Regions from separate parts of the Homo sapiens genome. Here region 1 is linked to region 2. Evidence: fine-mapped expression QTL. Tissue or cell type: tibial nerve. Region 2 holds a variant in brackets; the other region holds the start of a gene. All regions are shown on one strand. Distances are from middle to middle. Region 1 holds the start of VASH2 (vasohibin 2). Region 2 overlaps VASH2 (vasohibin 2).

What was found.
Region 1: VASH2 starts here. The variant in region 2 is fine-mapped to the expression of VASH2 in tibial nerve (GTEx, PIP 0.91).

Annotation. Positions count from the first base shown.
Region 1 is chr1:212,949,428-212,952,327 of GRCh38, reverse strand. It overlaps VASH2 (vasohibin 2), which reads right to left and starts at 1,787. Exons shown (of 8, transcript NM_001301056.2): 1 at 1,588-1,787; 2 at 510-989. The coding sequence starts at 785. RefSeq lists enhancers at 1,082-1,131, 1,652-1,801.
Region 2 is chr1:212,976,949-212,979,848 of GRCh38, reverse strand. All of the region lies in intron 7 of VASH2 (vasohibin 2), which reads right to left. Among named protein-coding and RNA genes, the nearest start is that of VASH2, 28 kb to the right of the region's middle. RefSeq lists an enhancer at 170-219. The variant A/C (reference allele first, on the strand shown) is at 1,611.

The DNA.
Region 1 (2,900 bases), 28 kb after region 2:
TGGCAAAAAGTCTGGAAATTATTCACACTGAGAAGTCTGACTGGTTGATTTCAAATTCATTCACAGCTTAATAAATCATTTGCTGGGGGAAGAGGGGAGCAGAGGAGGAGCAAGACACTCCAAAGAGAACAAGCAGGGTGGGATCCCTGGGGTCTGTGCATTCTTTGGCATCGCTGGTACCTGGTGGCTCTAGCTTTTGCTGAAGGAGGATGTATGTGGGGGTGAGTAAATAATAGAGTTTGGCTGGAGCTTCAAAGACACCTTGGCACAATCCAATTACACAGTCCCAGGATAGCAAGCCCGCTACCTCTCCCTTCCCCATTTCTTAGGCTTCCAATCTAAATATCTCAATTAGAAAAGGGCTGGCAGGAAGGAATGGGGAGAGGAAGGGAGTTTGTAGCAGGACTAGGAAAATGGAGATTGCCTGTGTTTGCTATGTATAGGCTGAAACGGTCCCATCGCTGCCTACCTACCCCCAGCCCCCCAACTCCGCCCTGGAAGCCACTGACCTTTGCCAAGAAGGCGGCGTTCCTGATGGCGCCCACCATTTCTCCCCCCTTAGGGTGCACCTTGGCCACGTGCATCCACATGCGCTCCCAGGTGTGGCTGTCGATGGGGAAGCCGCTCTTGTTGACGTGGAACAGCACCCCGCCGTCTTTGTCCTCCTCCTCTGAGCCCCCGCTGGTGGCGAGGCTCACGGGCCGCGCGTGGCTGCTCCGGGACCGGGTGCCTTTGGCGCCTTTGGGGTGGGGGCAGCGGTGAGTGTCGGCCGCGGAGCCGGTCATGGTGGGGCCTGGGCGGGGAGCGAGGTACTGGGGGCGCGCGGCGGCGGCAGCGGCGGCGGCGGCGGGGGGCGTGTGCGCGCGGGCGCGGCGAGGGGATCAGCGCCCCGCGGGGGCGGCCTTCTCCATGCCTCTCGCTGCGGCAGGACTCACCAAGGGGGAGCGGCGGCGGGAGCTCCGCGGAGGCTCCCTGCTTACCGGCGGTGCCTGAAATCAGCGGAGACACAGCTGACACCACAGCTAAGTGGACGCACAGCGGAACCGAGTGAGGGGTCCCGGAGTGTCTCCACGACACTCCCCGCTCCCCCCTGCACGCTGACAGCCTCCCTGAGAATCGATGACGGGCTTCCAGCCCTGCGATTACCTAGAAAGGCAGCTCAAAATGTGCCACGAAGCTTCACACACACCTAAACCCGGGGGGTTGGGGATGGAGGGGCACAAGGAGCTTGGGGGATGCGGAGCGCAAGATGTGGGGAGAAGAAAGACAGCTTGTGTAGCATGAAGGAACAGGAGGTTCCCGCAAGGCTCCACACATTCCTGGGTCCTCAGATGTGGCCAAGAGAGGAGGGGAGCCACGAACGTGCTGGCATGTGAGCGCCCAGAGCTGGCGCGAGGGCGCTGCAGCAGCCTTGGCTTGCAAGGCGGCCCGCTTTCTTCCAGGAAGCCCTCCCGGACCCCGGCGGGGATCTAGTGGAAAGAGCTCCATCCGCCCCCTTTTCCCCGAGTTCCAGCGCCTATCACCGGGAGGGACTGGCTGCAGGCGGGCGGCGCGCAGGAAGGGCGCGCGGCAGCTCCAAGATCCTACCTCGGGACGGTTGGCTTCATGGCTGCAGAGCCTCTCCGGGCGGCGGGAGAGCAGGGGCTGCTGCTGCTGCTGCTGGGCCTGGGGCTGGGGCTGGGGCTGCTGGGGCTTGCTGGGGCCGTCGCCTCATTCCATGTCCCATTCTCGAATGTTATTCTGTGACATATAACCAAGTCACCCGGGCAGCCGCCGATGTTCCGAATGCGTCTATTGGCCACCGCAACAAAGAGGGGCGGGTCCCGGGCTCGGGACTCTACAACCCCGGGCTCCGCGACGCTCTGATTGGCTCCAGGGGTTCTCTGGCGGGAGGGGACAGGAGTAGGGGGAGCCTGGCGGCCACGCGAAATCCGATCGCTGTGGTGTCCTGAGAGCCCCGCGGGCTGGAGCGTTTGGCCATGGGACTTAAGATCGAGTTTCCCCAGGGGTCGTGGCACTTCGAGGGTTTGCAACTGTGGAAGCAGAGGAGAAACAAAACCACCCGAGAAGTGACCCCGCGGAAGCAGAGGGTTTGGCATCAGAAGAGCATTCCCTGAGGGACGCTGGACACACTTACCTGCCTCTACCCGGGATGATGAGTTGTTCATCCTCTACCTGGGATGATGAGGGGCTGTTCATACCTATGCGTGAAATTAAATCTTTTTTAAATCCCGCATTTAAAAATTCCTCAAAATTAACAAGTGGGTGCAGCTTTGGATCCTCTGGTATTAGTCATGGTTAATAAAGTCCCTTTAAGCCCAAGTTGAGAGGAGACAATAAAACTCAAGAGGTCAGGCAGGCCCTGACTGTTCTGCCACAGCTGTTGAGTGAGAGGAGGGATGGAGAGATGCTTCCAAACCATGGTGAAGTGGGTGGCTATCCCACACTCACTACTGAAACACCTTCTCTTTCTTTTTCTTTAAGAAAGAGGAGAGCAGGTTGAGGTGGGAAGAGCACCAGACTGCTGACCTGAAGGCTGGCTCCTGGTCCAGGTTTGTCACTTTGCTCAGCTGTGTGACCCTGGACAAGCCACTTCCCTGCTCTGGGCCTTAGCTTCTCTTTCTGAAAGGAGAGCAGACCTCCCGCTCTCCAGGGTCTGTTCTGGCTGTAAGGTTCTGTGATTCCCTGACTTCCTCTCTTGTGACACTGAGGATCCTGGCCATAGCATCCTTTCTCTTTAAACTGCAGGCCAGCAGGCCAGCTCTGAGCAAAGCAGTTATGAGACCTATGCTAAGTGAACCTTGAATTAAGAAGACAGTTGTCAAAGTGCCACTGATGGCGGGTCAGTTTCTGGATGCTTATCCTGACAAGTTGCCTGTCATGGAACTGGAACTTCTCTT
Region 2 (2,900 bases):
TTTCTCTTTACGAACCACAGGAAAAAACTTGACAATTCAGTGTAGTAGGTGCTTTACACACTCCCAGAGGAGCAGTGTGAGAAAGGACCCGTGGGTGGAAGGGTGGGGGAGTCCTGGTTTCCCTCTTGAAACTTGGTCTCAGCGGATGCTACGCAGTCATCTTCACCTGCCCTCCCCCTCGGCTGATTCTTGTCAACCCAGTGACACTGATCCTCCTCTCGAAAGGGATTATTTAGACAAGTGCAAAAATGGAGAGGAATTCAAGGCTGGAAGTCGCTCCAGCTGGAGGGAGGAGGTGGATGGGGATATAATGCCACTAAAATTATCCATGGCAGACAGGGACTGGGACCCCACAGCTGATGGGCCTCTCGCCTGTTATGGTAATTTTCCACCCTTTGGGCCCCTCCCAAGCTTCCTCATGACACCCAACACATTTAGAAATGACGCGATGGCCTTATGTAATGCTGACAGAATAGCACAGGGACAGAGTCACCAAACCCTAGTCCTGGCCATCTTACAGTAAGATTCCCGGAGTTTGTGGAGTGATTGGGTCAAGACCATATTTGTCACTTTCTCATTTCCTCGCCAAAAGCAAGATTACCTAGAGAAAAGGCTGCTTGGCGAAGGCCATGGGTGGAAGCTGAGAAGCTGCTTCTCTCCAAACATACCTCCAGGAACACAGCTGTCCTGAGTTCTAGTGTGGCAGAATGGCGGGAGCTGGAATCTAGAGAGGGAAGCTGGGGCTTGGCGCTCCAGTGCTTGTGGCCTCTCACAGCTCTTCTTCTTATTCTCATGTCCTGCACCTCTCTTCCCTCTCCTCCTACACAGTAGACCCTGCAATCTCTTCCCCAGCCCTGCAACTCAGAAGTCAAGGTTTCGGAGGAATTAGGGAGAGAATCTTCCCTCCTCAAACACCTCAATCCATTTGAAACTTCAGCTGAGAGATCTGCCCTCCAGAGTTCCCTCCCAACCTCCAAGTGCTGGAGAAAGAGAAAAGAAGTGGCAAGGGTTTCCGCCACCAAGAATAACCATAGTCTTACTGGATTTGCTAATACAAAATTGTCCACGGGCACCTACAAGCCAACTGGGCTCTGTGGATGGTCAAACCGTTCCAAGGCCACTCGGCCCTAGTTGTGGGGAAAAAAAACCGCAAAGACTCTGACCTACTGGGAGCAGTTTAGGAAGGAGGACTTTTGGGAATCAATGTTTACCTGGGAGGAAGGGCTCGAGGGCAGGGGCGTGAGTCAGGGGGATTCTGAGGCAGGTGGCAATCACTCTTCACCTTTTTTGAAAAGTTGATGATTTCACTGAACCATCAGCCATCACCTCCGTGCTCCTGGGGCTTTCCCCACTGGGGCTGGGATCGACTTTGGGGCGTGGAGGGAGGAGGGTGATGGAAGAGAATTCCCCTCTTCCTGCAGGTCTTCCTTCCTGACCTCGAGTGACCGACCACTCCCTTCCCCAGTCTTTCTCCCCATTCCCAGGCCCACTCTGATGTGCTGGCAGGGTAGGAGGGGAGCGGGAGAGTAGATAGCTTTCACTCACAACTGAGGCAGTCTAACAGCTGTCCTCTGCAGGCGCAGGGGTGGTCACTTGCCTTGGCTGCATGA[A/C]AAAGTAGTCAGAGATTAGCGTATGGGCATGGCCTAGGGGATGAAGGACCGGAGGCCCAGTCTGGCCCCCAGGAGAGTGACCAGTTGGGCCCCTCCCAGAATGACTTCACTGGGGCCCAAACATGGGAGCCAGTGCAGGGTCAGACCCCCTAACTTCACCTCCACAACCTCATTATCCAGAGATCCAGGCAACACTGGACAAGGCTGAGCCCCTAAATCACACCCAACGGCTTTATCTGCCCCTCTCAGCAGACCCAGTACTTTTAGCCAGTGACTGTTATTTTTCAGGGTCAACCGCCAACTCAGTTTTCCCATTCTGATTCATCAAACACAGGTGGAGGCCTGCGGCTGAAGCAAACGGTAGATGTCAAAGTGTGGTCCCCGGACCAGCAGGATCAGCATCATTAGAAACACCAGTTCTCAGGCTCCATCCCATATGTGCTGAATCAGAAGCTCTGGGAAAGGGGTCCAGCAGTCTTCTGTTTCAACAAACCCTCCAGGTGATGCTGGTGCACACTCAGAGTTGAGAACAGGACTGCAGGGCCTATCTATCTGTCCTCAGCTGGGCCCTTTCTTCAACTCCTTCACTGGCAGGATAAAGGCCACTTAAGGTACAGTCCTTCAACTTCTACCTCCTCATGTATGTCAAGCTCTCCCTAATGTCCCCCCTTCCTTTGCCCTACCCTCTCCCCCACCCACCACCTTCTAAGCCCTCTCTGTAGCCTTCCATACCATGTGACCCCAGCTGCTCATATATCTTCCTCCATTAATCCCTTTGCTCTTGAACACTCATTTCTTTCTCCTGGTTATTTTCTCCGTGTGTCCAAAGACACTCTGGTCTCTTCCAATTCTAGAAAGACAAAAGCCCCAGGAGAACTCTATAGAGTTTACAAACTACCTAGAATAATCTGCTCTAAGTCCCCCGTCCCCTTACACAGGTGAGGCACAGAGAAGCAGCTTGCTCAAAGCCGCAAGCTGGTTCATGGCAGAGTTGGAGTGAGAAATCAGGTTGCTGCATCTCTGTTCAGGGCTCCTTCTTGATAAAGGAATCTGGCCTGCATCAGCTCCATCAGCTCTCACTCTCACTCCCTTTCGCAGGCTGGTTCCAGCCCCTCAGCCCTCTCAACACTGCCTCTCTAAATGTCACCTCAGTGCATAGTGCTTCTCCTTCCCCCACTACTTTCCCTCCTCCCCCTTGAAACCCACCCCTCCTCACCTTGTTGCGGCCACTTCTCATCGTTTTTGAAAAGCTTATGTTTTCACTGCTGAGCCCTGAGCCATCACCTCTGT